Regions from separate parts of the Homo sapiens genome. Here all the other regions are linked to region 5. Evidence: fine-mapped expression QTL. A gene starts in region 5. Each other region holds a variant in brackets. All regions are shown on one strand. Distances are from middle to middle.

Evidence for each region. PIP is the estimated chance that this variant, and not a neighbour inherited with it, causes the effect.
Region 1: its variant is fine-mapped to the expression of QTGAL in cerebellum (GTEx, PIP 0.96).
Region 2: its variant is fine-mapped to the expression of QTGAL in whole blood (TOPMed, PIP above 0.99).
Region 3: its variant is fine-mapped to the expression of QTGAL in nasal epithelium (TOPMed, PIP above 0.99).
Region 4: its variant is fine-mapped to the expression of QTGAL in hippocampus (GTEx, PIP 0.90).

Annotation. Positions count from the first base shown.
Region 1 is chr17:82,939,567-82,946,004 of GRCh38, forward strand. TBCD (tubulin folding cofactor D) reads left to right here. Exons shown (of 39, transcript NM_005993.5): 38 at 1,833-1,917; 39 at 2,883-6,348. The coding sequence ends at 2,897. QTGAL (queuosine-tRNA galactosyltransferase) reads right to left here. Exons shown (of 13, transcript NM_001009905.3): 13 at 2,583-4,483. It overlaps LOC124904095, which reads left to right and starts at 1,924. Exons shown (of 1, transcript XM_047437261.1): 1 at 1,924-2,511. The coding sequence starts at 1,940. The coding sequence ends at 2,488. The variant C/G (reference allele first, on the strand shown) is at 3,594.
Region 2 is chr17:83,124,168-83,130,486 of GRCh38, forward strand. No RefSeq gene overlaps it. Among named protein-coding and RNA genes, the nearest start is that of METRNL, 48 kb to the left of the region's middle. The variant G/A (reference allele first, on the strand shown) is at 3,169.
Region 3 is chr17:82,957,252-82,963,689 of GRCh38, forward strand. It overlaps QTGAL (queuosine-tRNA galactosyltransferase), which reads right to left. Exons shown (of 13, transcript NM_001009905.3): 8 at 3,806-3,930; 9 at 108-243. Among named protein-coding and RNA genes, the nearest start is that of QTGAL, 91 kb to the right of the region's middle. The variant G/GCA (reference allele first, on the strand shown) is at 3,256.
Region 4 is chr17:82,463,981-82,469,576 of GRCh38, forward strand. It overlaps NARF (nuclear prelamin A recognition factor), which reads left to right. Exons shown (of 11, transcript NM_012336.4): 3 at 307-450; 4 at 4,784-4,916. Among named protein-coding and RNA genes, the nearest start is that of NARF, 8.0 kb to the left of the region's middle. The variant C/T (reference allele first, on the strand shown) is at 3,002.
Region 5 is chr17:83,047,991-83,054,428 of GRCh38, forward strand. QTGAL (queuosine-tRNA galactosyltransferase) reads right to left here and starts at 3,780. Exons shown (of 13, transcript NM_001009905.3): 1 at 3,747-3,780; 2 at 679-795; 3 at 481-580. The coding sequence starts at 3,761. It overlaps LOC124904094, which reads left to right and starts at 3,197. Exons shown (of 4, transcript XR_007065967.1): 1 at 3,197-3,255.

The DNA of each region.
Region 1 (6,438 bases), 110 kb before region 5:
TCTGATAGGAGGAGGAAAGAGGGTTCCCAGGTCTCCACATCCTCTGCTTAGGTTTTACAAGGCAGCCGTGCTGCTGTAGCCGAAACCTCTTCTCAACCGCCCTGTCCCCAAACAGTGTCAGGTGTCAGGAACACAGCAAAGCCATCCATCCCACCAGGGGAGCGGGCACCTGTACCACAAGGCTGTGTCTGGTGGCCTGTGGAGCAGAGGGCACTGAAGGCCTGGCAGGTGCTGCTGCCCCAGACCTCTCTAAAGTTCTCTTGGAATAGGCCGTGTGAGCACCTGTTGGAAATCAAGAGGCACAGGCGGAAATAAGAAAAGCTCTCCCCACGCCTCTGCTCTGATGTCCACCCCCTTCCTCAGGGCCATGAGGCCCTCAGGAGGCCATAGTGCCACTCTCCACGTTTACTTTGGCAGGCACAGTTTCTGCAACATGGGCTGGCTTCTTTACCATGGGTGGAGTAGAATGGCGGTTTTGAAAGATGTGTGTATTGAGTTGGGGGTGGGAGGGTCTGAATGAGAGCAGAGTGGGGAAAGTGCAGGCTCAGGTGTCCTGGGCCAACCGGTATGTTCCTGGGAACAGCAGTGATGGTGTCTTACACATATGGGCATGGGCACCCATGCTGGCTCACACACATGCTCACTTGCACGCGCGCACACACACACACACACACACACACTTCTAAAAGGGGAGCAGTCTCGTCACCCCGTGTTGGAGATCAGGACTGAAGCAACCAGAGGCTGTGTGGGTGTCCACATGGCATACCCGGGGTGGTGGAGTCCCAGGTGTCCTGCCTGTGGATGCTGCTCTGTTTTGAGTGCCGACTGTGAGGGCCTCCGTGCTGATCCCGGTGCGTTGCTACAGGTCTGTGGGGTCCACGCCCCTTGTTGAATCCAGCAAGGACGTAGGTGACGTTCCCTAGGTGTCTCCTCGGAACAGTGACCTTCCAACAGGGCTGGGTTCCCATAGAGCTCACGCACCAGGCAGCCGCTGTGGCCTCGGAGGACAGAGGTGGCCTCTCCAGGGCTTCCGCGAGGTTTTCTGGTTTGGGGAGGAGTGTGTGTCTGCTCCTAAACAAACACGTGGTCCCAGGAGAGGAACCGGGAGCAGCTGGGCTGTCTTCTCAACATGCGTTGAGAGAATGGCCATCTTAACTACTGCTCTGGAGACCCGTTTTTACAATGATTTTTTTAAAAAAAAACACCAAGGTGCATTCTGGACCAGATTCTAAAATAATTGGCTTTAGGACTGAAGAAGCCAGGTGTCCCGAGCGGGGCGAGGCCTCCTCCAGCGAGGCTGGGTCGGGGTGGCCTCCTTTCCTCACATCAGGGAGGGAGGAACTAGCAGGGTGGGCCTGGGGGCTTCTCCTATCGTTTAATCCCCTTTCTGTTAAAAAAAAAAATCCTTAGAATTTAAAGAGAATATTTTAAATTAGAAACGAAAAACATGCCCCAGATATCTCCACAGCATTGCTAGAATTTTTATTTCGCATCAACAGCTAAATTAAAACCTGGAAAACCCTTGTCAGCCCCTCCTTGGCCTCGCTTGGTCTGTCCTCCCGCAGTCCCTGCGCTGGGCGTGGTCCTTCCCGAGGGGCACCCCTTGTTGGGAAGGAACCGTCCTCCTGCGATTCCGGAAAGGGCTCAGGCTCGAGGCTCTGCTGGAGAACGTGCTCCTGTGACGTCTTTTCTGCCCTCAGCCTGGCTATGGATGTCGGGGGTGAGGTCTCCTTTCCCTGACTGCGGCCATGGAAGCTTGACGCGGGACCTCCGCACACCTGAGGTTCTCCGGTGGGCACTCGAGAGACTCACGGCTCTCCCTCTCCTCACAGGGACGCGGAGCTTGCAGTGGTGAGAGAGCAGCGCAACCGTCTGTGTGACCTTCTGGGCGTACCCAGGCCCCAGCTGGTGCCCCAGGTAACCCTGTCACCTTCACAGCATGAGGTGCCTGTGCTTCCCTGAGCTCTGGAATGTTCTGGGGCCAGCGGCTGTGCTTAGCTTCTGCCAGCACGTCCACACGGCCCGTTCCCTCGTCTCATGTCAGGACCCCTGGGATTACGGGACCAGCAGAGCTGCCTTCTCTGGCCACTGCCCACACCTGTGGGCCCCTGTGGCATCCAGGCCACTTGCTCTGGGGCGTTTGGGGGGCCGGGGAGTGGGTGGAGCTGGCACCAGCTTGATCCAGGCTCCTCATGCCTGGCCCTGGGGTCTGTTTGTGCTCCAAGTGCCAAGAGTGCCACCCTACCCCTCCTCATCTGCTTCCCATGAGTGGGGCCGGGGCTGGGTGAGAGGCCCCCAGAAGCTGCCCCTGTGCACCTCACCAGCCCGTCACTCTTCTAAAGTAACAAAAACAAGTACCTCAGTTCTCTCGGGGGCTGGGGCCCAGGGTTGCTGTGCTGTCTCTCTAGTTACCAGGGTTGGCTCCTTCCTCTCAGCCTCCTTCCGGCAGGAGGTTATATCTGAGAGGGAGGAGGAGAACCATGTCTAGATACATGGGGGCAGTGGGGATGGGCTGAGCATCAGGACACAGCCTCCCCCATTTCTGTGTGTGTAAAGGCTGAACTCAACAGCAGACTTTGGAATTAAATGTGCTTTTTACATTTTTATTAGGAAAAATTTCAAACGTGTGAATGCAGGTTAAGAGCAGTGCAGTGAACCTCCCTTCCCGCTCCCCAGATGGGGTGCCCTTCCGAGGACACGTTAGTCATGAGCACCTGTCAGCCACATAGCTCAGGCTGCCGGGTGTGTGGGAAACGGCACAAATGGTTTCCTGCAGGAACCGTGTCAGTCCCCACACAGGGCCCAGAGGGGTGAGGGTCCCCTGGCTGGGAATGGTGTGTGTTGGAGCTGACCAGCCTGAGCTTGTCTTGTCTCTTCTTCAGCCTGGTGCCTGCTGAAGCCAGTCCTGGAGCCCATACCTCACCCCTGCCTGGTGAGGATGTCTTGTTCCTGAGGGAGGCCGGTGTGGAAAGCCTCGCACAGTGGTGCCTCCAGCTGTTGAAGGGTAGCGCTGGCCCTTGGAGGCTGGCACTAGCTGACAGCTTTTCCTCTCTGCACCTGCGCTCTGGTGACTTGGGGTGGACGCCTCTGCCTTCACTTGAACACAAATGTGCTTCCTATAAAATCATGTACCAAGAAGTTCCTGCCTTTTGTCTCTGAGCCTGATGTGTGTAGGGGTGATGGAAAGGCTCACTGCCCAGGGGTCAGCCAGAGGGGAGGTGGGCTGCACTCCTCCTGCCTGGAGACCAGGCCCCCTTCTTGCCTGGTGCTGTCCCTGCTGTGGGAGACGTCTGGCCACAGGCAGTGCCCCACCCAGTCTTGGAGAGAGATGAATGTTAAATCAGAGGTTCAAATGCTAGAGAACTGAGAAGCCCTGGTGGCAGGCATGGTCTGGAGTGCTGGGCAGATGCTGTTTCTGGGCCCGTCTGCCTGGTGGGGGTGCTGTCCTCCCCCCTGTGCACACGTGAGCATCGTGCATGTGGCCCCTCTGCAGTGCAGGAGTCACTGATTGATGGGTGTGCCGACCAGCAGCTTCACAAATGTCTGCTGCAAGGGGAATCGTCAGAGTCCAATGTGTGCCTCTACAGTAATGT[C/G]GGAAATAAATACCATTCTTGAAATAATTACACTGTCTTAGGAGAGCCTGGGCAGAGTCCACACTTGGGTTTTTAGGCAAAGGGCAGGAGGCTACCTTTGTCTCTGTGTCTGAGCTCGTGCTGATCCATCCCAAAGCTGGTGAGGGGAACGTGTATAAAAATTTCACTGTGGTAGCAACCCACACCCATCTCTGGGACCTGTGCTGTGCTCATAGGGCTTGAGGTGCAGAACCACGGCCAGCAGCACCAAAGCAGCCCCAGGTGTGGCCACTCAGAGGCCCAAGGGCTTGGGTGAGCAACCCTTTCCCTATGTGAGGAGCCCAGGGGTGCCATGTGCGTGGTGTAGATTAGGGTGGCTCCCTGGCCTGCTCTCAGGTGGGGATGGGGCCTGGACACAGGAACATGGGCAGGCCGAGAACTGGGAGGTGCCACCGCATCTGTGAGGCTTGTGAGGTCACCAGGACCACAAGACCAGGACTGTGACAGTCCGTGCTGTGTGTTTAGCAGACAGCTCTTCACGGGATGTGTGTGACGACCTGGCCACACAGGAGTGTGGGGTTAACACACTACTGTTGTTGTGTTTGACCTGGTGGCCAATGGTCTTTATACCCTAAAAGAGCCTTGGGTTACATTTTTACGAGATTTAAATATTTTATTCCAACCTGTGTAATAGGGGTCTCCTCCTCCTTGAACTGTCCCGATTGGCTGGGGTCACGTGGTGAGGGTCCTGGGTGACCAGGCCTAGCCTTGGCCACATGAGTCCACACAGTGGAAAAGGCTTGGCTCCTGTGGTCGGCACACACGAGACTCTGGTTGCGCCTGCTGGGTGTGGAACAGGCGCACCATCGCCATGCCTGCAGCTCACAAAGCTCCTGCTGGCCTGGGATGCACTGAGGATGGAAGGAACAAGTGGCTTCTGAGAAAAACATGATGAACTGTTCTTAGTGCAATTAAAAGAAGATTCCAGATAAATGGCATTTTAAGACATGGAGGCAGGTCGATTACCCACCCAGACCCATCAGTGACACTATGTGGCAAAGCAGTTCTTCTTTTAATGTCGGTCTAACTTAGCAACCCGAGGAAAGTGGATCACTCCACTGGCCACTGCCTCTTTCCCACTGGATCCCATCCATCACTGGGGCACTTGTGCTCACCAGACACCTGGTGGCCTGGAAAGCCCTCTTTCAGCAGCCGTTTCTGGAGCCCACCAGGGTCCAGGTGATAGAGTTTGGCAAGGAACCCCTTGCTCACATGATAGCTGGGGCAGACAATAGCAAATGAACAAGCAAGCACCATCAAGGCAGGCAACACTGAGTGCTATGAACAAAGATAAAGTGGGCAATGGAATGGCATGTTGGGTGTTGACTCCGAGAAGGTGTTCAGAAAACCTCTCTGAAGGGGCAGCATTTGGGCAGAGGTCCAGACTGTGTCCAATGGCAGAAAAGAGAATGCTTGTGGTCCCAGAAGTGGAGCAAGCTTTGTGAGTTTAGAGAGCAGCAAGAAGCCAGTATCCCTGGGACCGGGGAGCTGATGTGGGATTTGTGTACCCACAAACACGTTCTAGGTGCTAACCAGAAACCCTCCATGTGAGAGCAGAGACCTTGGAGATCCTGAGGGTTTCTGCTGAGCCCTGGAATCTAGTCACGCTATTTTGATAGCAGAATGGATGAGAGAATTTAAGGCCCAGGGCCAGATCTAATGGACCACTATATAAAGCTGGGACCCTAAATAAGTCTTTTTCAAAGGAACAGCAGCAAGACTCTTATCTCAATCTATCTCCCCTGAAGTGGCCTGAATTAATACTACCTGTATGATCCCCAAAACTCCTAAAGTGGAAAATTTGATTGACTTGGCCCTGACCAGTGGTATTCCCAGACAAGGGCAGAAGATGCAAATACAAAACCTCTCTGGTAGAATGTAGGCTATAATATGAGTACATTTTTGAAAAGGGCTAGAAATGATCAAGAAGAGATTAGAAAAAAACAGAGCCCCTAGAAATGTAAGAAGTGAAATGAAAAGCTCAATGGATAGCTTAGACACAGCTGAAGAGAGAATTAGAAAACTGGAAGATCTGAAAACATTATCCAGAGAACTGGAAGATATGACAGCAACATCAAGAGACATTGAAGAATGTCTAACCTTTGGGTAATTGGGGTCTCAGAATGAAATGAAATGATGCAGATATTCCATACTGACATGCAACAGTCCCCAGATACAGAAGCCTAACAGTCTCACATTTAGACCTGCCACAGTGAAACTGCAGAACTGTAAGAAGGACAGAGTGATATAAACGACTACCAATTTCCCAGCAGCAGCACTGGAGTTGAGCAGTGAGTAGACCAAGGTCTTCATTATGCTGAGAGAAAATAGCTGTCAAGTTGCTTGAATTGTGCCCACAGCATAACATTAAAGAAGAGAACAAAATTAAGTCATTTAGATAAAAATATGCCATTCTTATCTGTTTGGTTTTTTAATCTTGGCTTAATATTTGGGGTTGAGTCATTTGTTTTGAGAGCTGTCCTGTTTATTGCAGGGTGTTCAGCAACATCCCAGATGGAAGCAGCATCCCCCTACCCAGCTGTGACAAAAAGAAAAAAAAATGTCTCCAGACACTGCCAAATATCTTCTGGGGGTGCCCCTGGTTGAGAACCACTGCTTTAGTGGATAAACTTTAGGCAGGAGGGAAATGATCGCAGTTGGATAGTTGGAGGAATGTGGAGCAAGGGAAGCAATAAACTGTGACCATAAAAACATAGAAAGATGGCTTATATGTGGATTTTTTTTTAAAGCACGTAGAATTGCTTAAAATGGACAACAGCAGCATATAAATCAGTGGCAGAGTTGG
Region 2 (6,319 bases), 76 kb after region 5:
CTGGAGCTGCTATGGCCCAAGGGGAATGGGGAGGAGGCCCCCCAGCCCTGGTTGGTGCTGGGAGACTGTGGACCAGGTGGGTTGGACATGGAGCCCCTGGAGGGCTCGGGCAGCCGTGGCACCATCTGGGGGCTTGTTGGGGGCACAGGGAGACCTGTTGACCGGGCCCCGCCAGGGACCAGGCAGAGCTTATGCTGCTGGGCTGGGGCTGGCCTTGGAGAGCTTGTGTGTGTGGAGCAAGCCTGTGCCTCAGTCCGTTCAAAGGAGCCCGAGAAAGAGGAGCATCCCCCGGATGGGGCCCATGAAGCTCCTCCCTGGGAAGCAGCCTGAGGGCACCCCTGGCCCAGGGGCTGAGTCCTGACGGCGTCTGCAACCTCTGGGCTGTGGTCTCCCTGAGCCCTGATGGCATCTGCAACCTCTGGGCTGTGGTCTCCCCAGTCCTGACGGCGTCTGCATCCTCTGGGCTGTGGTCTCCCTGAGTCCTGACGGCGTCTGCAACCTCTGGGCTGTGGTCTCCCTGAGTCCTGATGGCGTCTGCAACCTCTGGGCTGTGGTCTCCCTGAGTCCTGATGGCGTCTGCAACCTCTGGGCTGTGGTCTCCCTGAGTCCTGATGGCGTCTGCAACCTCTGGGCTGTGGTCTCCGGGAGCCTTGACGGCATCTGCAACCTCTGGGCTGTGGTCTCCCTGAGCCCTGATGGCGTCTGCAACCTCTGGGCTGTGGTCTCCCTGAGTCCTGATGGCGTCTGCAACCTCTGGGCTGTGGTCTCCGGGAGCCTTGACGGTGTCTGCAACCTCTGGGCTGTGGTCTCCCTGAGTCCTGACAGCGTCTGCAACCTCTGGGCTGTGGTCTCCCCAGTCCTGACGGTGTCTGCATCCTCTGGGCTGTGGTCTCCCTGAGTCCTGACGGCGTCTGCAACCTCTGGGCTGTGGTCTCCGGGAGCCCTGACGGCGTCTGCAACCTCTGGGCTGTGGTCTCTGGGAGCCCTGACGGCATCTGCAACCTCTGGGCTGTGGTCTCCGGGAGCCCTGACGGCATCTGCAACCTCTGGGCTGTGGTCTCCCTGAGCCCTGACGGCATCTGCAACCTCTGGGCTGTGGTCTCCCCGAGCCCTGGCAACCCCTATCCCTCTCCGCTCTCCTTCGGGCACACAGCCCGGCATCTCTGCTCTCCAAGGGCTCGTAGTGCCTGAAGCCGACACTCTCTCTCCTGCACACACACAGGTCGATGCCTTCTTGTTCCCAGTGCTTCAGAACAGAGCTGGCAGCGGCTGCGGCAGGAGCAGCTCCCACTGACAGGCTCCTGCAGCCTCCTTCCCACCTGCACAGGAAAAAAGCCCGCATCCATTCTGTAAGGAGCTAGAGCAGCTCTTTGGCATCCTGTACAGGCCTTGGAATGCTTCAGGGAAAAAAGATGATTCCGCATCAGAATGGCTGTGGTCAGACTTGCTGGCAGAAGCCTCCCCCAGGCTCTTGACATGTGGCTTCTGGTCCCTTTTCCTGCCACACCCCTGGGTTCCGCGCAGACCTGGGTCCTTGAAGAACTGAAATTCTAGCTCAACCTCGGCAACTCTGTAGCCATTCGCTGGAAATTTCCTAAGAGAATAAATTGCAACACAGTGCGGCGGATGGGCTGTGTGGGTTTATTTTTACCACGCGCTTAGTGCTATAAAGACGTCACCTTAAATCAGGAGCGTGCAGGCGTCAGTAGGAAATATGTGCATGTGGCAGGTGACGCAGGCCACACCCTCGCCCTCGAACCCCTGGCTTCCTGCACCTGAGCGGGTGGAGCCCAGCTTGACTCCAGCCCTGACGATGGACCTGGGTGCAGAGGGGACCCCTGGTGACCTGCAAGGTCCGACCTTCTGTCCCTTCATGCAGGGAACCTGTGGGGCTGTCACTCCTGAGGGAAGCTCTGAGTCTGTTTCTCTGGGGATTTGCCAGGGGAGAAGGTCATCCACCTGTCGGCTGGTAAGACAGGGTTCCCTGCATGTGATGACAACTTCCTTTCAAAGCCAGCAGCTTGCACAGCGTTTGCTCAGGTTCTCTGAACGGATTACCATTCATTCACCCTGCACCCCTGCTCCACTGAATGCTGGGGGCAGCAGAGGCAGCTCTGGCCATTGGGGCAGCCGCACGACTGTNGGGGGCAGTCAGGACCGGGAAGCCTTGGGCAGTGTAGGGTGCCGTGACCAGGGAGGGTCTGCTTCTTGCAACAGCCCCTTTCCCTTTGCACAGAAAATAATCTGAGGACAAGAACAGTGGCGTGGCTGGAATGGCTGGGGCTGCTCAGGGCCTCTGTTGTTCAGCTGGGCTTGCACCTGAGGCTGACCCCTGGTCTCTGAGACAAGCTGATGGCCATCAGATGCCACAACCCCTGTCTGGACAGGCCCCGAGGACGTGTGTCACCGCAAGGAGCTCAAAGAGGATGGTGGAGTGTCTGGGTCAGAGGTCAGGACCCACCTTGCATCAGCGGGCTTGGGTTTAGTCATTTACCTAGGAGGTTGAGGGTCATCCTGGCTTAAGTCCAGGGCATAGCACAGCAAAATCTACCCTTTGGGAGTTCATAAAGAACATGCATAGTTCTGGCCTCGTGGCGGTCGCCAGCTCTCCCAGGGCCCTGCTCTTCTCTGAGTGACCACTGCCCTCTGGTCTGGTGGACGCCTGGGCATCTGTTTCTATGAAACAACCTGTTTGTTTCTGTGTTTCAAATATTTGTGTTTATTATGGAAGAGACATTATTTTTTCATGGAATTCTGAAGACTGTCATTTTTGAAGGATAAGCAGGTTTTGGACAATTTGCAATTCTTACAACTGTCTGTAAATTTACATTACTGTTATAAATGAGAAGACCCTTCTGATATTCAGACACCTTGTTAAATACTGGCTCGTCATTGATGCGTGCAGCCCAGTGTGGGCTTTGTGGGGGTTTGAAGTGTGTGTGGTTTGTAGCACACGGACATTCCCCTCCCAACGCAGAGGCATCTTTGGCACGAGCTTCAACCGTAAATCCAGAAACAAGCTTGCTGGCTTTGGACTTCATGGGCCGGTTAAGTAACCCCCCATAGCTGAGGACTGATTTAAATGTACTTTTAATTTTGTCCAACAATAAAAAAAAAAATAAAGCAAGCAATAGCAGACATCGTCACTTATGGGAAGTGCCTGGGGAC[G/A]ACAGAGTCGGCCTGAAGGATGCTGCTCTCAGAGGCAGGCAATGGCCCCTCCGGGCACAGACGCTTTGGACTCTGCCTGTCTCCCTGAGCAGCAGCAGCCGTGACCATGTCCCTGTGTGTGGCCCTTGGTCCTGTGCATGTTCAGACCACAGCCCACAGCTGTCCTCGCGACCCCAGGCAGACACTGACCACAGGACACTGAGAGGTTCAATGCAAGGCAGGCACCACAGCACGAGGGGCTGAGTGCAAGAGCTCAGGCCGTCCTCTCCGAGAGCCCCACGCTGGAAGGGTGGGTGCGGGATCTGTAGGGTGGGGTGTGGGATCTGTAGGGTGGGTGTGGAATTGTAGGGTGGGTGTGGGATCTGTAGGGTGGGTGTGGGATTGTAGGGTGGGTGTGGGATCTGTAGGGTGGGTGTGGGATTGTAGGGGGGGTGTGGGATCTGTAGGGTGGGTGTGGGATCTGTAGGGTGGGTGTGGGATCTGTAGGGTGGGGTGCGGGATCTGTAGGGTGGGGTGCGGGATCTGTAGGGTGGGGTGTGGGATCTGTAGGGTGGCAGGTCCCCCACCAGGTTCTTAAGGCCCTGTGTTCGCAGCCTGGGCCCTGAAAGCCAGGTGGTGAGCCAAGGCCCTGGTGCCCAGGCCAGGAGTTGGTGTCTCTGAGAACCCAAAGATCGAGGAGAGGCTCTGAGAACCCACCGAGGAAACAGCCCCATCACACACACACAGGAGGCAAAGCCAGAAGATCAGCTTAAAATAGTTTGGAGACGGGAGGCGGCGCAGGTCTCAGGGCTGTCCTGCCACTGTGCAGCAGTGTCCTTGGTAAATCCTGATCAACACATTGACTCGTCAGATAACGTGGACCCTTCTGAGTCATTTCTTGGTCTTTTGACCCTTCCCAGTTTGGGAGGGGGTACGTCACAGTCCCAAGTTTTTCTCGTAAAGGGGTGTCCCCCATAGAATGCACCCTTGAGATCACATGGTCCTGGAGCCCCTTTCCAGGGGGTTCCAGAACAATGCTATGAAACATTTGTTCATTTGATTCGTATTTGTTGAATTCCTGCTACCTACCAGTCACTCTCAAGCATAACACGGAGCTGGTTCTGCAGACTACACCCGGGCATCTGGGAACTGGCACCCAGGAGAGCACCCGACACCGCTGAGCTGGGCCAGCAGGTCGTTCTCTCTGATTCCCCATCAGCCTTGCAAGACCTGTCTTAGGAAGAGGAGTCCAAGTGAGAAAGGGGCAGATCCTGGAGCCGGGAAGGGATTTGGGGGAGGGCCCCTGACGCCCTGTGGGCTGACCGTTCCCCGGTGCCACTCAGGAGTCTCCTGTGGAGCCCTCACATTTGCAGTGGGATGTGCTGTAGGTTTACGGGATCCCAGCGCCAGACAGAGTGAGAGGAACGGGACATTCATGCTGGTGTCCGTGGGTCCCGCCTGTTGCCTCTCAGACCTCTCACCGAGCTTCTTGACCTGGGCTTCGCAGACCCTGGGCTCTTGGACCTGTGTTCAAAGGAGCATGGACTCTGGCTGGGNTTGCTAAAGCTTCAGANAACTGTCCAGCGCTGAGTGGAGCGGAGGCAAGCCCAGGGGTGCTGCCCAGAGGCAGCTTCCTGAGAAAATGAAGTTGCTGTTGTTTAAAGCCACCGAGGTTTTGCAGCAACGGGGGAGTGAGCATTGGTCTCCACCACGCCCGGGGCCGGGTCAGGCCAGGACGAAGGGTGATGTTTCCTGTGCGGATCCCGTAGGTGGAGTTCACCGTCACTGGGAGGCCTCACAATCATTGCTTTATTCACCTCGACAGGTCCCATGAGGCGAGCCCCCGCTCCTCCCTTATTTAAGCATTTTAAATAACGAGTTTACAAATTTCCAACTTCAAAATGTGTTAAAAAATCTTCACTCCTCCCACCTCCTCTCCCGTCTGCTCAGTCCTGCCTCTTGGAAGAGGCAGCCATTGTCACTGGTGTCTTAGGTGACTTCCCAGAGGTCCTTTAGCACATACAGTTCAATACAAATACATATTCCCTGACTTTTACACCAACGGCAGGATGTTACATACACTTTTCTCCTTGTTACTTAAAAATTTTTAAATTTTCTTTCATTTTTATAATAGACTTTATTTTTAGGGCAGTGTTAGGTCTACAGAAAATTGAGGGGATCGTAGAGAGAGTTCCCACATACCCACGTCCAGTTTCTTGCACTGTTAACAGTTTATGTTAGAATGATACTTTGTTACAATCAATGAACCAGTGTTGNCACATGATTGTTAGCTAAAGTCTGAAGTTTATTCACGTCTTTAGTTTCCCCTAAATGTCCTTTCTCTGTCCCAGGACCCATCCAGGGTCCCACATGACACTTTGTCCCGCGTCTCCGTAGGCCTCTCGGGGCTGGGCAGTTCTCAGACTGGCTTTTGGTGACTGGGACAGTTTTGAGGAGGCCTGTTGGGTGTTTGGTAGCTGCGTCTCTGTTAGAATTGTTCTGATGTGTTTCTCGTGGTAAGACTGGGGTTTGGGGCCTGGGGACAATGACCCCAGAGGTGAAGTGCCCTGCTCACCCCATCCTGTGAGGGACTCACACACCCAGCACGGATGCTTGCTGTGGACACTGGCCTCGGCCACCCAGCTGAGGGGAGTCGGTCAGGTCTCCCCACGGTGATGTGATCCTTTTCCTTCCCTCTCCATACTCTCGGGAAGGAAGTCAGTCTACACAGCCCACACTTGAGGGTTGCGTATTTATGTTTAATTTAATATTATTTATTGGAGATCTTTTCATATGACTACAAAAAGAACTTCGTGTTCTGTTTCACGCCTCATAGTATTCTATTGTACGCATCTGCCGAGACATTTGACCGGTCCTCTCCTTGATGTGCATTTAGGATGTAAGTATCATTGAAGACACATACTTTTTTTTTTTTTGAGATGCAGTCTCACTCTGTAGCCCAGGCTGGAGTGCGGTGGCGCGATCTCGGCTCACTGCAAGCTCCGCCTCCCGGGTTCACGCCATTCTCCTGCCTCAGCCTCCCGAGTAGCTGGGACTACAGGCTCACGCCACCACGCCCGGCTATTTTTTTTGTATTTTTAGTAGAGATGGGTTTTCACCGTGTTAGCCAGGATGGTCTCCATCTCCTGACCTCGTGATCCACCCGCCTCGG
Region 3 (6,438 bases), 91 kb before region 5:
GGGGACAAGCACAGAAGGGCAGCTCTGGACAGGCCGGGGCCAGGGCCTGTGCTGTGGGACAGTACGGGGGCAGGGCAGGCAGTGTTGGAGGGTGGCAGGATGCTCACCTTGCGCTGGCTGCCGGCAGTCAAGCTGCGGTACAGCCGGCGCCCCTGCTTGCCAGCGTTCCAGATGGTGAAGGCCGCCCAGCGGGGCAGGGCCTGCTCTTCCAGGAAGCGGACGCGGTGGGTCCAGATGGTCGTCCTGCGGTGGAGAAGAGGGTGATAGGCAGGCCGGAGGCCCCACAGATGCACACAGATGCTGACATACAGGGACATGATGTGTGCTCAGCTCACGTTGCCAGTGGAGTGGACACCTGGCCCAATGCCTAAGAGAGACTGGCTGTCCTACAGTCAGGCCACCTGCCCCAGCTGGACGTAGCCACATGCCTAGGTGGGGATCCACCCCTTCCATTAGACCCCAACAGGTGGGGACAGATGAGAAGCTGTCACTTAAGAATCTAGAAGGTTCTGGAAGGCAGAATTTCTGTAGGACGCAGAGGACTGGACTTGACCCAAGTCCAGTTTCCCAGAGAAACCTTTGTCCATAAGGACACATGCAACCATCCCATAAAATCCCAGCGTTCACACTTGGACACGACCTTCTGCCTCAGGGTCGCTGCCCCGAACCCTTCCACTCCCCTGGGAACCTGGTCTCTGTTCTCCCTCTGCTGTGACAAGTCGACCCCAGGCTGCTGTCCCGGGGGGAGCAGGCTCCTTCCCATGACCTGCTGCTCTGCCCAGCGCCCAGCCCCATCGCTGCCCGGGCCCTTCCCAGCCCCGCCCTCTCTCCTCCCACCGCAGCCCCTCCCCACGTGCCCCATCGCTGTCTGCCTGTGTGTGCCTCTCCCTCAACCCTGCTCCTGGAGCTGCCCGGGCTGAGCCCGTCTCAAAGCCCCAGGAGCTGGACGGGCCAGAAGCTAGAGGGGCAGGGGATGCAGAGGCCAACGGGGCCAGAACGGCGTGGGATGTGTCCCAGATGCTGTCCTCCCCAATGGCCGCGATGTAGCCACGCTGAAGCCCGGTACCCCACAGACCCTGCCCTGGCCGAGTCCTGGGATGCCCTCTGCTGTGTCAAGGGAGCTGTGTCCGTGGGAGTCTCCTCCGGGGTGGGGTCTGGGCCAGACACAACCAACACTGGCTGGTGACGGGCCTCCCCTGAGCAGGGCCCTCGTGGGTTCAGCCTCGGGATCGGGGCAGGATTTCGCTGTTCTACGATTCTGCTGCTGCCTCCGCCTCCCGGGATAAACTTGTGACTCCCCCCCAACCCTGTGGCACCCCCTGTTTGTAGCAGAACCCCCACAGGCAATGGGATGGGGGGGATGGGGGGACACGGGGTCCCCTCTGTCAGCTCAGGGAGCTGCAGGGCTTAGGCACTGTCAGGGAGGTCCTGCCTGGAGTCTACCTTTTCCTCCCCAACCCTCTGCAGCCACCTCAATAGTCCGGACCCCACCTGGGACACAGGGAGATGCTTATCCCAGTCAGTGACTTGGGGACACTGAAGCATGTGTGTGTGTGTGTATACTGTGTGGGGGTGTATGGTGTGTGTGTGTGTACACTGGGGGTGTATGGTGTGTGTGTGTGTGTACACTGGGGGTGTATGGTGTGTGTGTGTATACTGTGTGGGGGTGTATGGTGTGTGTGTGTGTATACTGTGTGGGGGTGTATGTGTGTGTGTGTACACTGTGGGGGTGTATGGTGTGTGTGTGTGTATACTGTGTGGGGGTGTATGGTGTGTGTGTATACTGTGGGGGTGTATGGTGTGTGTGTGTGTACACTGGGGGTGTATGGTGTGTATGTGTGGGGGTGTATGGTGTGTGTGTACACTGTGTGGGGGTGTATGTTGTGTGTGCACAGTGTGCATGTGTGGTGAGTGCATGTGTACATGAGCACGTGTACAGTGTGTGCAGGTGTTCGGAGTACATGCCTGTATGTACTGTGTGGATGTGTGTACACGCATGTGTACACGTGTGTGCAGTGAGGGCCTGTGCATGCAGTATGAGTACATGTATGCAGTGAGTGCACATGCCTGCATGTACCGTGCAGATGTGTGTACATGCAGTGTGTGTGCACGTGAGTGCGTGTGTGCAGTGAGCGTGTGCAGTGAGTACGTGTGTATACTTTCGTGCACGTATGTGTGTGCATGCTGTACATGTGGTCTGTGTGCACGTGCAGTGTGTGTGTGTGTGTGAGAACCTGGGTGAGGACAGCTCCTGCAGACGGCTGCGGGGACTTCCCCACCAGGTGACGCAGCCTCGCCGGGTTTTGGCATCTTGTCCTTAGCAGCCCGGGTGTGTTGGGTGTCTCGGGGCGGGGGGACGAGCCTGATCCTCCTCATCCACTGACATCAGCTTAGGGACCCCAGGGGGTTCACGTGACAGGAAAGCAGTCAGGGCTCCAGAAGAAAGCGGGGGGCCTCTGTGGCCGTGGGTGGCACGCGAGGTTTGGGGGGCCTCTGACACCGGCCTCCTCGACGGCCCCTTGTCTCCTGGGCTTTCCTAGGGGTCTCTGGTCTGAAAATGTTGGCCCATCGTAGGAAGGTAAAATGTAGAAGCAGCCATGATGTCTGTATTTGGTTCATCTTCATTTTTCACATTTTAAAAAGTTCTCATTTAATCAGGGAGAACAGGCTCCCCAGGGCGCCCTATGCCTCTCTTTTTACATCCTCAGAGGAAGCCGTGGCCCCGCCTTAGCACCGGGAAAGGTGGAAACCCAGTTTTTCCCAAAAGCACAAGACAGCATTTCTGGAAATGTTGCAAAGGAGCTGAAGTGTCAGGGACACGTCACCGCATGAGGAGGCGGCCAAGGTGCCGGTGGGCATAAGGGAGAGGAGCGCGGACGCGGGAGGCCCCAGCATGCAGGAGTGAGGATGATGCCCCCAATGGGGAAGCTCGTGGCCCTCCTGCCAACCCCCCAGCCCCACCCCGTGACCTTGGACCTTAGACCCCCTGGGGAGCTGGGATCTTGCCGAGAGTCTCAACCCCATCACGGCAGGCCTGGGACCATCGCGGCTCCCACACCCACACATGACCCTAGTTGGGGTCTTGAGACTCCGGGGGCCCTGAGTACCCGTAGGGGCCGAGACGCAAGCCTCGGACGGCGGCCTGCTTTCCAACTTAACGCTGCGGCACGCGGCAGGCAGGTGGCCGAGACCTCTGTGTCCTCACAGTTCTAAGGAGGGAACTGTCTGCCCGGATCTAAGGAAGGAATTCTACAT[G/GCA]CAGTTTCACCCCGATTTGCCTCACCCCTGCCACGGCTCCAACGCAGCCACGCGGCACCCCCAGACCCGGGCCCACGTGGCCGCTCCTCACAGTGACACGGGAGAGGGAGGCGGACCCCGCAGCACTGGGCGCGTCCTCACTGGGTGCTGCGATTCCCTGGCCGTGCCTCTGCCACCCTCCACGGCAGCTGCGCCCCCCAGGCCTGTGGTCCCCGCCGGACCCCACTCATGAGACTCCCGTCGGGTTAAAGGGAGCACAGGGTTTCAGAAGGACCCGGCGCGTGGTCATTTTACCTCTGGGAACTAGGGAAGGACGTTCGGCCTTCACCCTGGCGCTCCCTGGCGCCCTTGGGAAATGCCCCTTCGTGGACGCCGAATCCCCGCCACCCTCGGGATGTGCTGTTGCCCCGTGTCCCACCAGACCCTGGGTCTCAAGGCAGAGCCTGACCACAGCCTCTGGGGTCGGCCCCACCAACCCCGGCCCCGACCTCGGGCGCCTCCCGTGTTCCTGGCCTCTCAGGCGTCCCGGGGCCGGGCGGGGCTGACTCACTCGAGGACGCAGTGCGTGGCCGCCTGTGGGTGGTGGCGATACAGCAGGAGACTCTGGTCCACGCGGATGACGCCGCCGCCCTTCCTGAGGTGCTCGTAGAAGAACAGCAGGTCCTCCGGGACGCCCTGCAGGGCGGGAGAAGCAGAGGCATCACTGGGGCCCCAGAAACGCGTGCCTGCCCCGGATGCACACTACACCTGCGCTCAGCCGGCCAACCAGGAACCGGTGGAAAAGGCTTTTGTTGCAAAGAAACCGGTCTAGAGGCTCAACAGGGACGTGGGGCGGCGACCACAACAGACGTGAGCAACCGAGCTTCTCCACAGGCGGGAAAGAGGGGAAGGGAGGGTGGGCTGGGTCTTGGTTCTGCCCCAAATTCCATTTTGAGCAGTAAAGGTCTCAGGGCAAAGAGGAAGACAGGCAGCCGAGGAAAGGGGCTGGGGTGGGTCAGGGTCTCACAGCCACGGCTCCTGGATGGCTGGTCCGGCCTCCGTCCCCATCCTTTCCTGCCAGTGGCTGCAGCCCCAGAAGCTCAAGGGACTCAAAGTGCCGACTGTGGGCAGAGGACAGTGGTGCTGGGTGGGCGTGTGGGGCTGCGGGCAGGGGAGCCCAGCAGTGGGGAGGCAGCCCCGGGCCTGTGCCAGCCCTGCTCACTTGTCCAAGCTCAGAAACTTGAACCTCAGCCCACGGGGCTTATCCCCGAACACTCCCTCCATGTCAGTGGGACTCTGCTCCAGAACATTCTGCAGGCATTCCCACCAGACTTTTCTGTCCTGTGAGAACCTGGGCCCTGCTTTCCCCGGCCCATGATCCCAGTGGCCCCTGCCCTCTGCTTGCTCCTCTCCTGGGTGACCCCAATCCTCAGCCCAGGGCTCTGGGCCTTGTGTGGAGCCGGGCCCCTGTCGCTTTCTTAAATTCAAACAAAACTGAGGGAGGAGCAGGGCGTGGAGTCTGGTCTCCTCGTGGTTCTCTGCGGCAGCTCACCTGGGTCAGCCGCCCGGAGACACCTTTGCTCCAGGAAAGGGCAGGTTTTCTGAGAGCCTAGCAGCAGGGCCAGTCTATCACCAAGTCCAGCCTCTTCTCTCCTTGGCTGGTACACAAACTTCAAGTGCAGGTCAGTAAAGTCCCCAAACTATCACGGCCCAACCGCTGGCCTGTTTGCTCCCAGGACAGACAGGCAGTGCTATGGTTCCACGTCCAAAAAAAAGGCACTGTTTAACCTCCGCCTCTCCAGGGCGATCCCTTTTACAAAAACCACGATGACATGGAAAGATTTGTAAGAAGATGCTGAGTCAAAGAACAGACCTCAAAATCATGTGTCAGCCCTGCTAAAAGTTTATCCACCATAAGATAAAGACAAAGGAATCACAGAAGCCCACATGCTGTCTCACACGGGTGATTTAGGGTGGAGGGTCCCGCGGGTGCTGGTGGACACGGACCCTCACACGGGTGATTTAGGGTGGAGGCTCCCGCGGGTGCTGGTGGACACGGACCCTCACACGGGTGATTTAGGGTGGAGGTTCCTGTGGGTGCTGGTGGGCACGGACCCTCACACGGGTGATTTAGGGTGGAGGCTCCCGCGGGTGCTGGTGGACACGGACCCTCGCAGGGGTCACTGAGGTATTTTCTTTAATTTTCTGTGTCTTCAAAGGCAGCTCTAAAGAGCACTGGAACTCTCAACATGTTACAGGTTTAAGAAGAGAAAAAAGGTTTCTCTCTTCCTATCACCAGAAGAGCCCGACCCTTGGGGTTTTCTTATTTTCTGGCAGTAAAGTGAGAATTTAGTCAACAGCCGCTCCCGGGTGGTGCCTCTGCCCTGGGAGGAGGGGGACGCAGAGGATCTGTCCCATTTTTCTCCCCTCCCCTGATTGCTGCTGCTGAGACCTGAGAGGCCCGAAATGGCCTCACTCCTCCCCCAGGCTTTTCCCAATCAGCCTCCAGGTGCCTGGACTGCCCTGTGGTGTGGAGGACCCCTGGCGGGGCGCAGGGAGAGGGGGAGGGGTCACAACCCAGAAAGGCATCAGGGAAGAAGCCGAGTGGAGGAAGTGTGGCCGCCGCCCAGCCCCAATCTGCTCACAGAACCATCCTCGGGCAGCCTTGGGGGATGGAGCACCCAGAACTGCCTGGAGGAGAAAAGCGTGAGCTAAAGCCACTCCCAGGAAGGCCGGGCCAGAGGCTGTGGAGACTCGGATCCTGAGGCAAAAGGAAGCCGAGTCAGGGACGCGCTTCCTTCCCCAGGGCTCGTCCCCAGCGCCACCCGCCCTTCTCTAGAGCCCCATCCCCAGCGCGAACCTCCAGGAGGAAGCAGCAGTCACCACGCGGGGACAGAAGGGGGAGAGCTCGAGCCAGGGCCCAGCGATTGGAGTCCGCGGAACGCAGGGACATGAAGTCCAGCAGAGAAAACTAAAAACTGGCAACACTTCCATGGATAAAAATTCAGCCTCTCCCTCTACAATAGCAACAAACCCCAAACCAGGAAACAGAGACCCCTGTAAATAACCCACCAAGATAAATTCCACACCCTCCACCAGTGTTTCAGGCTACAGGGTGGGATATGCGGGGAGGTGGCGGAGACCCATCTTGAATCAGAAATTCAAGGACTAAGTGCAAAACTGGACCCTAATGGGGTGGGTCTA
Region 4 (5,596 bases), 580 kb before region 5:
GCTTCCAGAACACAGGGGTCATTTACTTCCTACCACGTGACAGTGCTAGGGCTGGGTTCCACCCTTGTCATCTGCATGGTTCCCTAGTGTCATTGTGGGCTGGGCCCTGTGTCCTGTGTCCCTTCACCACCTTGAGCTGCTCAGTGGCAGAGACTGTCCTGCTTCCAGCCCCTTGAGCACCAGGCCTGGACCCTGGTATTATCTCCAATGTTTACTGTGAATTCTGTATATGGGTGTTACCCTCTCTAAAGAAGCACATTAAAGAGTATTTGTTGAATAATCATGCTGAAACGTCATCTTTCATAGAAGGGAGAATTCCACAAGTTGGCTGATGCCAAGATATTTTTGAGCGACTGCCTGGCATGTGACAGCTGTATGACTGCAGAGGAAGGAGTCCAACTTTCCCAGCAAAATGCCAAGGACTTCTTCCGCGTTCTGAACCTTAACAAGGTAAGGCATTCGGGGCATTTGCTGATGCTGGGGAGCTGACCTGGAGGAAGTGGAGGTGAGGCCTGGCTTCCTGCACAGAAGCCTCTGCTGGGACATCGGATGCACATCTCAGCCTTTTCCTGGTGTTGCTAACATCCTGCTTTGACCTTCCAAACCTCTCCATCAAGAGCAAAATCCCCGCACAATTTCCTGCTCCCTTAATAATGCTCAGGCAGTGGTGGGGGGCTGGCATCACCCCTCAGGCTCCTGTGGCTTAAGCGGGGCCTCTGCCTGGTGAGGTCAGGTAACACGGGTGTTGGTGATCATGCGGGCAGCACAGAGCCGGAGCTCCTGCTGTTCTGCCTCGGCTGCACGTTTTCGGACACGAGAGTTATGTTCTAATAGACCGATCAGCTTGGGGCAAGGCAGAGACACTCCAAGGAAGTAAAAATTCCCAAAGCTCCTTCCTTCAGCTCATCCCTGCAGACCTCCTATACAGAACGAGAGGTGCCACTTGTCTTTCCGTGAGACAGGTTGTATTAGTCCATTCTCACATTGCTACAAAGAACTACGTGACACTGGCTAATTTATAAAGCAGAGAGGTTTAATTGACTCACAGTTCCACAGGATCTACAGGAGACATGGCTGGGGAGGCCTCAGGGAACAACCATGGCGGAAGGGTGAAGGGGAAGCAAGCATGTCTTCACGTGGCAGCAGGAGAGAGCAAGTAAAGGGGGAGGTGCTGCACCCTTGTAAACAACCAGATCTTGTGAGGACTCACTCACTATCATGAGAAGAGCAAGTGGGAGATCCGCCCCCATGACCCAGTCACCTCCTGCCAGGCCCAGCCTTCAGTTTCACATGAGATTTGGGTGGGGACGCAGAGCCAAACCATATCACAGGTGAAAGAGAAAGAGACAAAGGCAGATGAGGCTGAAAAGCACTTCTTGGTTTCCATGCTGTCACCTCCACGGGAAGCACCGGCATCCTACCCTGCCCAGGGTGTAGGAGCCCATTCACAGTAGGTAGTGTGCTAGAGCAAGGTAGGGGCCTCAAGAAACACTGACTGGCACAAGTGGGTGGCATAGGGGACAGCCAAGGAGCCTTCTCAGCGTTTGCCATTCACCCCCATGGCTTCTGGACAAGTCATCCAGCAGCAATTAGATCACAATATTTTTCTTTGTGAGACAGGGCCTCACCCAGGCTGGAGTGCAGTGGAGAGAGTCTCAGTGGGGAGACTCTGGTGATCCTCCCACCTCTGGAGGCTCCCTGTAGCCTCCAGAGCAGCTGGGACTACAGACGCGTGCTACCACACCTGCCTAATTTTTGTATTGTTTGTAGAGACAGGGTTTTGCCATGTTGCCCAGGCTGGTCCTGAACTCCTGTGCTCAAGCGATCCTCCAGCCTCAGCCTCCCAAAGTGTTAGGATTATAGGCATCAGCCACCACCCATGACCTAGATCACAATTGCAGATAGAGACACATGTCCTCTGTGTTGCCAGCATTAGTTGTGTCTGGGTGTACCCTGACTTATATGCACTTGCACGGGAACTCCGTTAGCAAGCAGCAGGCTGCCTGGATAGGATGGTCTGAACCAGGAGATGCCCCCCACCCATCAGCCAGGTTCGCCATGCATACCCGTCCCCACCTGCTCACCCTTGGCCTTTCAGGGAACAGAATGGCTTCAGCCATTTTGTTACGTTGAACAGACTTAGTGGATACAGCTTTGCAGACTACTAGAGACTTAATTCTGTGGTGTCAACGGTTTTTGCAAAAACCCTTGAAAGTGTCTGTGTCACTTTATGCTTCCCTAAGTGATAGGGGCAAACAGCTGTGTGCAGCCATCCTGGTCACATTCAATATCAAATTCAGTTTTTTCCCCCCTGATACATAGAGAATTGTATCTCATTTGCATTTTCTTGCTTATTTAGAGAAGTTGGTTACCCTAGATGATGTTTATTGACAGTTTATATTTTATCTTATGCTGCTTGTCCAGTCTACAACTTATATTTTAGTACGGTGTGCGATGTGAATACATTCTTCTTCCTTTTTTTTCTTTTCTGAGATGGAGTCTCTCACTGTCTCTCAGGCTGGGGTGCAGTGTCGTGATCTCAGCTTATTGCAACCTCTCCTTCCTGGGTTCAAGCAATTCTCCTACCTCAGCCTCTCAAGTAGCTAGAGTTACAGGCAGGCACCACCATGCCCAGCTAATTTTTGCATTTTTAGTAGAGATGGGGTTTCATCATGTTGGCCAGGCTGGTCTCGAACTCCTGACCTCAAGTGATGTGCTCGCCTCGGCCTCCCAAAGTGCTGGGATTACAGACGTGAGCCACCACACCCGGCCAGATACATTCTTTTCTATTTGAAAAAATCAAATTGTTCCAGCATCTTCTGTTCTTCCCCTGTTGACCTGAAATATTATCCTACCTCTCTTATATATTGATAGATGTGCATCCATTTGTTTCTTTTTTTTCGGCCTTCACCATGTTGGCCAGGCTGGTCTTGAATTCCTGGCTTCAAGTGATCCACCTGCCTTGGCCTCCCAAAGTGCTGGGATTACGGGCATAAGCCAC[C/T]GTACCTGGCCTTCTTTTTTTTTTTTTTCCCCATTACTTCCACCCCACCCTTGTACTGCGTGTCTATTTCTTGACCCTTTTTTGAGATGGAGTCTCACTCTGTCGCCCAGGCTTGAGTGCAGTGGCACGATCTTGGCTAACTGCGACCTCCACCTCCTGGGTTCAAGCAGTTTTCCTGCCTCAGCCCCCTGAGTATCTGGGATTACAGGTGCACACCACCATGTCTGGCTAGCTTTTGTATTTTTAGTAGAGATGGGGTTTCTCCCTTTTGGCCAGGCTGGTCTCGAGCTCCTGACCTCAGGCTATCCACCAGCCCCGGCCTCCCAAAGTGCTGGGATTATAGGCATGAGCCACCACGCCTGGCCCTTGACTCTTATATCTGAACCTGTCTTCTATTGCGCTGCCAACATCTAGTTTATGCTAGTTTATGCAGTATTTTTTTAGAACAGTTTGTAGATGAGGCTTACTCACAAAACATCTTAGGCCTGGTAACTTTTTTTTTATTTTTTTATTTTTTATTTTTGGAGATGGAGTCTCACTCTGTCGCCCAGGCTGGAGTGCAGTGGAGCAATCTCAGCTCACTGCAACCTCCATTTCACTTCAACCTCCACCTCCCGGGTTCAAGCGATTCTTCTGCCTCAGCCTCCCGAGTAGCTGGGATTACAGGCACATGCCACCACACCCAGCTAATTTTTGTATTTTTAGTAGAGATGGGTTTCGCCATGTTGGCCAGGCTGATCTTGAACTCCTGACCTCAAATGATCCGCCTGCCTCAGCCTCCCACAGTTCTGGGATTACAGGTATGAGCCACCATGCCCAGCCGGGCTGATGACTTTTAAGAGGCATCTCTGGATACCATTTTAGTGTGTCTGTTTTTTTTATTGTTGTGTAGTAATTTCACTTATTCATTGGCCAATGTTGTAATTTGTATTTTCCCTTTAAAATTATTTATTTTTTCCAGATATTCACATTTACTGATATAACATTGTTCTTGAAATTGACAAAGTCTTTTAGATCTGTAGTCTTGTCTCTTTTAAGACAGAGTATTGGCCAGGCTAGGTGGCTCACACCTGTAATCCCAGCACTTTGGGAGGCCGAGGCAGGTGGATCACAAGGTCAGGAGTTTGAGACCAGGCTGCCCAATATGGCAAAACCCCGTCTCTACCAAAAAGACAAAAAATTAGCTGGGTGTAGTGGCAGGTCCCTATAATCCCAGCTACTTGGGAGGCTGAGGCAGGAGAACCACTTGAACCTGGGAGGCAGAAGTTGCAGCGAGCTGAGATCGCGCCACTGTACTGTAGCCTGGGCAACAAGGGTGAAACTCTGTTTTTTTTTTTTTTTTACTGTAGCCTGGGCAACAAGGGTGAAACTCTTTTTTTTTTGAGACAGAGTATTACTCTGTCACTCAGGCTAGAGCGCAGTGGCTATGGCTGTTCCTAAGTGTGATTATAGCGCTCTGCAGTCTCAAACTCCTGGCCTCAAGTGATCCTCCTGTTTCAGCCTCCTGTGTAGCTGGAACTGTAGGCATGCACCACTGAAGCCAGCTCATGTTTCATTTTTTAAATCCTGACTTTTAAAAAAATATTTACCAGAAGCCCAAACCTCACCATAATCCTGATTTTTTTTCTCCTTTTTCTTAATTATGTTTGCCAGTGTTTGTCTATTTTATTAGTCTTTGCATAGACCATCTATTAACGTTGTTCTGAATTTCTCATTAAGGTGTGTAACTTTTACTCCTTGTGTAATCAGCAGATACCTAACATTCTCTATTTCTCCTTCTAGAAATGTGATACCTCAAAGCACAAAGTGCTGGTAGTGTCTGTGTGTCCTCAATCTTTGCCTTATTTTGCTGCTAAATTCAACCTCAGTGTAACTGATGCATCCAGAAGACTCTGTGGTTTCCTCAAAAGTCTTGGTGAGTCATCTTTTGATAAATTGGGAATGTATAACTTGAGTTTATAAGCGCCCTTTTTAATCTCTAAAGTTCGTTTTTCAAGGACGCAGGGTAGATAAGCAACTTCCAAAAGAGTCTCTTGGAACGTAAAAAGACCATGTCCCGTGTGTCATGAAACCCAGCCTCTGATCGATGGTAGACGAGTGTCACTTTTCTCCTTTGCTGTGCACAGACAGGTGTTTTGTTACACAGTGGGAGCTGACCCCTCTGGGACCAAACAGTGACCACCTTCTGACAACACGGACAGGACACTGGGAGATTCCCACACTGGCCCAGCAACCTCCAAGTCACCCCTTACCCCCAGAGGGTGTGCATTTGATAAACAGTCACTTCTGAAATGATTAGTATCTGGTTTCCCAAGAAGCTCTCTGAAGAGCAGAGCAGAAAGGGAATGGGCTTGTGTTCTTTACTTGAGGAATGAAAGGTAGAAATTTAAGAATATAATAAAAGAACTCGGATGTCAACGCTGGAATAGTACTACCTGAAATGTTGATGGATGATGCTTCTGCGTCTTCTGCTTTGGTCAAAGGGGAACTGCCTCCCTCCATTTGCTTATAGAGGGGCTTTTACAGCCTTGAGCATCCTCATAGCATGATGGTCAGTGTGCAAGTTCAGAAAGGGAAAATGAGCGAGTTGCCAAA
Region 5 (6,438 bases):
TCTTCCTTCTTTCCTTCCTTCCTTCCTCTCTTTCTCTCTCTCTTTCTCTTTTTTGAGATGGAGTCTTGCTCTGTCACCCCAGCTGGAGTGCAGTGGCACGATCTCGGTTCACTGCAACCTCTGCCTCCCGGGTTCAAGCAATTATCATGCTTCAGCCTCCCAAGTAGTTGGGATTACAGGCGTGTGCCACTACGCCCGGCTAATTTTTGTATTTTTTGGTAAAGATGGGGTTTCACCATGTTGGCCACGCTGGTCTTGAACTCTTGACCTCAAAGGATCCGCCTGCCTTGGCCTCCCATAGTGCTGGGATTACAGGTGTGAGCCACCACACCTGGCCTCTACTAGGTTCTTAATAAGTGGTATATCCAATTACCACCAGGATACTTTTTGTCAGTATTTGAACAACATGAAACTGTTTCGGTACGTAAGTTGATAAGAAACCACGAATTATAGTTTAATAAACTAAGCATGTTTACTTACCGCCTCTAGGAGAGGGAGAATCGTGCCCCCCAATGATCACGTGGACACCAGAATCTTCCAGCTTCACTCTCCATTTTTCAATGATAGCCCCAGACTTGTCCTGAAAGCAGAACACTGGCAGGTCAGGAAACTTCCCTCCGAACAGTCAACCGTTGCTTACACTGGGGCTGAGTCACCCGACAGGAAGTTCCTACAAACCTTACTGGCATCATTGAAAACAGACAGCTCCATGGTACCTTCAAAGTCCTGTTGCAAAACAGACCTCAAACATTCGTCCAGCCACGGTTCAGCGTTGTGGACTGGGAGGATAATAGACTGGAATTCAAAAGAAATGGATTAACAGAAGTGTGAAAACTTAGTTCCCTTTCCATGGCTCTAATTTACCTCCCCTTCACCACCCGCACATATGCCGTGACAAACAAAAGGTGTCCACTCCTTTTCTCCAGGCTCTTAACATGCTTGTAAGATTCTTTACGTCTTAGCTTTCCCTGAACTGCCTTCTACATGTTTTTGAAAGTGAAAAAAAAACTGAAAGGACTTTGGGAGGCCGAGGTGGGTGGATTACAAGGTCAGGAGATTGAGACCATCCTGGCTAACATGGTGAAACCCCATCTCTACTAAAAATACAAAAAATTAGCCAGGCGTGGTGGCAGGCTCCTGTAGTCCCAGCTACTCGGGAAGCTGAGGCGGGAGAATGGCGTGAACCCGGGAGGCGGAGCTTGCAGTGAGCTGAGATTGCACCACTGCACTCCAGCCTGGGTGACAGAGCAAGACTCTGTCTCAAAAAAACAAAACAAAACAAAACAAAAAAACTGAAAGGCATCAAATTGTTCCCAACTCAATGGTAAATCATGAGTTTTCCAATCACTGATCAGAAACATCATTTTGGTTGAAACAAGTATCTGGGTATCTTCCAACTCACTCATGAAAATAACTGGTTGGTTTTTTTTTTTTTTTTCTGAGATGGAGTCTCGCTCTGTCACCCAGGCTGGAGTGCAGTGGCTCGATCTCGGCTCACTGCAAGCTCTGCCTCCCGGGTTCACGCCATTCTCCTGCCTCAGCCTCCCGAGTAGCTGGGATTACAGGTGCTGGCTGGTCATGTTCTAGGTGGAATAAGCATTTCGGCAAACCATGTTAGAAAACCTGCAACAAAGTAACCCCTTTAAGTAACCCCTCAGCCCACAAAAAACAATGTTTTAACAAAGTATCGGGCAGGAGGTGTTCAAAGAACCCAGCTGAGCAAATGGGAGGCCTGACGTCCATCTCTCGATTCCTTTGTCCTACACTTCGTTTCGGGCTAGTGTAGCTAGTGTCCTTTTCTCATTGTCCTTTTCTCATGAAGCCCAAAACAAAAATTTATAAAGTGGGATGGAGTAAAACCAGGAAATTCAATGCCAACAAAACAACTGATTACAGGAGTTAAGTCTTAATTTCATACATTATAATATTAAGTGATACGGAGCGATACTTAAGAGATTAGTCTGTCCTCACCCTTAATTTATATCCAAAAAAGAAAAGTTGAAATTGTGTTGAAAACACAATTTAGTCAAGTTCTTTACAAATGAAACCTCACTCTGTCTCTTCCTGGACTTAGGTTAATAAGAATAAAACGAGTTCTGGCCGGGCGCGGTAGCTCACGCCTGTAATCACAGCAGTTTGGGAGGCCGAGGCGGGCAGATCATCTGATGTCGGGAGTTCAAGACCAGCCTGACCAACATGGAGAAACCCCGTCCCTACTAAAAATACAAAATTACCCTGGTGTGGTGGTGCATGCCTGTAATCCCAGCTACTCGGGAGGCTGAGGCAGGAGAAACGCTTGAACCCGGGAGGCAGAGGTTGCGGTGAGCCGAGCTCGCGCCATTGTACTCCAGCCTGGGCAACGAGTGTGAAACTCCATTTCAAAAAATAAAAATTAAAAAAAAAATAAAACGAGTTCCCTAATTTATTTACAAATTTACCTTAGTTTGGATTTACTTAGAGGAAAAGAAGGAAATAATTTTTCTCAAGATCTACAAAATATAATGTTTCTATCAAAGATAGACCTTGATTCACCTGTTACCAATTTTAGTAAGACTGGAATAAAAAAGAAAAAAGGCTGGAAAAAAAACAAACAAAAAAACAAAAAACAGAAAACATGCTGAGCCTTTGGGCGACTGCTAATCCTACATCCCTGTGGTTGTTCCCTGCATCGGCCTATTGGCTGGGTCTGAACCCTGAGGGCCTTTGCTCCAGCCTCTGCCGGAGCACGGGGAAGGTGTTCGGGGCTTAAGGGCAGGTTTTTAGGGCACGTGTTTGGGGTAAGTGTGCTGGGCACACAGGCAGGTGTGTGGGCACGGAGGAGGTGTGCAGGTAGGTGTGTGGGATGCGCAGGCAGGTGTGCACGGCAGGTGCACGGGCAGGTATGGGGCACGGGCATGTATGCAGGACGCAGAGCAGGTGTGTGAAGCAGGTGTGCAGGCACAAGACGTGTGTGTGGGGCATGGGCAAGTGTGCCGGGAATGTGTGACGGCAGACGTGTGGGGTGCGAGGTTGTGTGGGGGCACACGGACAGGTGTGCAGGCAGGTGTGGGGCACGGGGAGGTGTGCAGACCAGGTGTGTGGGGTGCGGGAGCGAGGCAGGTGCGCGCGGCAGGTGCGCGGGGGCGAGTCAGGAGCGCGGGGCACGTGTGTGGGGTGTGGGGCAGGTGTGCGGGGGCGGGGCAGGTGTGCAGGGCAGGCGTGCAGGGGCAAGGCAGGTGCGTAAGAGCGAGGCAGATGCGCAGGTGCGCGGACCAGGTGTGTGAGGTGCGGGGGCAGGTGCGCGGGGGCGGGGCAGGTGCGCAGGAGCGAGGCGGGAGCGAGGCAGGTGTGCGGGCGCGGGGAAGGAGCGCGGGGCAGGCGGGCGGGGATGAGGCAGGTGCGCCGTTCCTCCACCCCACGACCAGGTGAGGGCGAACGGGGAACTGCCTGAGCTCCGAGCCCGGAAGCTTCAAAATCAGAACGAGGAAGGTCGGTGAGGAGGCCACGCTCGCGGGACGGGGGCAGGAAGCGCAGCCGGAGCTGCAGATCTCGGCCGCGCCCCGCGGGCTCCAATCCCGAGCGTCCCCCGCACGCGCAGCCGCGCTCGCCCGCGGGGCCTAAGGGCTGCTCAGGGCGGAGACCCCGTAGGTGAGCCCGAGAGGCGGTGCGGGGCTGCGAACCCCGGAGCGAGAGAGGACTGGAGGGCGGGGTGAGGGGACGCGAGGACCCAGCCTGCACGGCGGGGCACCCTCCCCGCTGGCACCTACCACGTGGGCCTGCATGGCCTGGCTCTCCTCGGACGCCCCGCCCACGCCGGCTCCGCTCATCCCGCCGCTTCGGCCTACGGCGCCTGCGCGGGCGGCACCAGGAGGCGGGTCTGAGGCCAGGCAATCTCCGATTGGTGCAGAGCGGCGTCCATAGGGGTGGGCCTCCCGGAGGGGCGTGGAAGGGGCGGGGCTGCTCGGCGCGGGGCGGGGCCGGGAGGTCGCCGCCTCAGTCTTCCGCCCTGGGCCACGCCCCGGTCCCGGGTCACCTCTCGGAGCCGCCTCCTTGGCCCGTGGAAGCCTCCTGCTCTCCCCTAGGGCGCGCGTCACAATCTCTGGTCCCCCGTAGACGCCGCCGCGGGGAAGGCGGGGCTGTGCGAGGGCGCCGCGCTGCAAACCCAAGCCAGGCGGCCTGGAGTTGCTGTAAAGCCTCAAGCAAGGCTGATATGTAAAAGGTCGTTGCATTTCACCCGGGCTGTGGGCTGTGCTACTTGACCGGGGAGGACGAGGGGACTGCAGGGCGTCCTTTCAGACAGACGCGGTAGGGAGAGCAGGGCGTGCAGGACACTTGACGGCCCCAGGAGAGGGGTGAGGCCCTGACCCCACCGGGGTGTCATCCAGGAGGAAGGGTGCCCGGGGCGAGGTCCCCCAGGAGAAGTGCCCAGGCCTGAGGCCTTGACCCCACTGAGATGTCCCCCCAGGAGGAGGGGTGCCCGGGGTTAGCTCCCCTAGGAGGAGGGGTACCCGGGAGTGAGGCCCTGACCCCACCGCGAGGTCCCCCAGGAGGAGGGGTGCCCAGGAGTGAGGCCCTGACCCCACCAGGAGGTCCTCCAGGAGGAGGGGTGCCCAGGAGTGAGGCCCTCACCCCACCGTGAGGTCCCCCAGAAGGAGGGGTGCCCAGGAGTGAGACCCTGACCCCACCAGGAGGTCCCCCAGGAGGAGGGGTGCCCGGGAGTGAGGCCCTGACCCCACCGCGAGGTCCCCCAGGAGGAGGGGTGCCCAGGAGTGAGGCCCTGACCCCACCAGGAGGTCCCCCAGGAGGAGGGGTGCCCGGGAGTGAGGCCCTGACCCCACCGCGAGGTCCCCCAGGAGGAGGGGTGCCCAGGAGTGAGACCCTGACCCCACCAGGAGGTCCCCCAGGAGGAGGGGTGCCCGGGAGTGAGGCCCTGACCCCACCGCGAGGTCCCCCAGGAGGAGGGGTGCCCGGGAGTGAGGCCCTGACCCCACCGTGAGGTCCTCCAGGAGGAGGGGTGCCCGGGAGTGAGGCCCTGACCCCACCGTGAGGTCCCCCAGGAGAAGGGGTGCCTGGGGAAAGACATGACCTCAGTAGCTCCGGGTACCCTCCACCTTTGCCCTCATTTCCGCCTCCGCATGCAGCCTTGGGAACTGCAGGGCTGGGAACCCGGAGAAGGCGGCCGGGCTCTGGGGGAGCTCAGAGGTGGCCTTCCCTGCCAGGAACACAGGCCAGGCCCCATCCCTATCTAACCTTATACTTGAGGAGCACAGAGCGGATATCTCCAGATTTGAGTCCTGAACGCGCGGCCGGGAACCCCAGCAGTTCTGAACTTGTCAAGGGAGCAGCCTGCCATGAGGGGTCTCCCAGGCGGCTGTGAGGCCTCTGGAAACTCCCTGCTTGGAGGAGGTTGACTGGGGACAGGGCCGTGGGGGTCAATAAAAAGGACTGCTGCCATTAGCCCTGGGCTGCCTGCACACAGAGATTAAGCCCGCTTGGGATTTGTTCCAGCTGATCTGAAGTAATGAGTAATTCACAATTAATGAGCATGGCTGTAAGCAGCCCTTCCTGGACAAATCCTTGGCTGTCCAAAACTAAGATTAAATGCAAATCATTCTGTCAATTAACCGTTACAACAAAGCCAAACTTCTGTTAAGCATCACTTCATAGATGGTTTTTTTTCCCTTAAATTGCCTCCTTGTTTGCAAAGCCTGTTTTACAAGTGGACTGCTTAAGTCACATGAGTGAAAATGCAGCCTTATTTACCGTTCAGCAAAAGCTATCTGAGAATTTGCTTCCAGGGACTTCATGTTCTCCAGAGGTTGGGGTACTAGGAATCATTTCATTGTAAAGGACTCAGTAAAAAGTAGCCCTGTAGCTGCCAGAATGCGCCGTAGGCTCATGATAAGGTAGGTGGTAAGGGCCAGAGGTCAGGGGTCACAGATGGCTTCTGCCCCTCCACAGCACATGGTGTCCAGAACTGGGCTTGCCTCTCACCTTCCTTCCTGTACATTTCCTGGTGCCAGAAATTTGCTTTTCACTGACTTCCCCCTAATTCAAATTTGATTAGAATCTCCTTTTTGGGAACATTCAAAGTGCCAAGGTGCGTTTCAGAAATGCAGGGTTGCAGAGGTGGGGTCCTGAAATCCAAGGGTGGTGGGGCCTGAGATCACTGCCCTCGCAGTAGGAAGATCCTCGGGGAGAGGTCAGCAGAGGGCCCGGACAGAAGGCACTGACACTGTACCCTGGAGAGAGACAGGAAGGAGGACCTGGGGCCTCAGAGCTGGCCGGGTGGAGATCGTGTGGTCTTCGTTCAGAGGGAAGTGAGGTGCTGATGAAAGATGATTGACGTCACGTGGGCACCAGCAGAGGAAGTGACACAAAACGCCCCACAGCTTTGGGTTCACTGAGTGGGCAGTTGTATTTATTTATTTTATTTTATTTTTGTAGAGATGGGGTCTT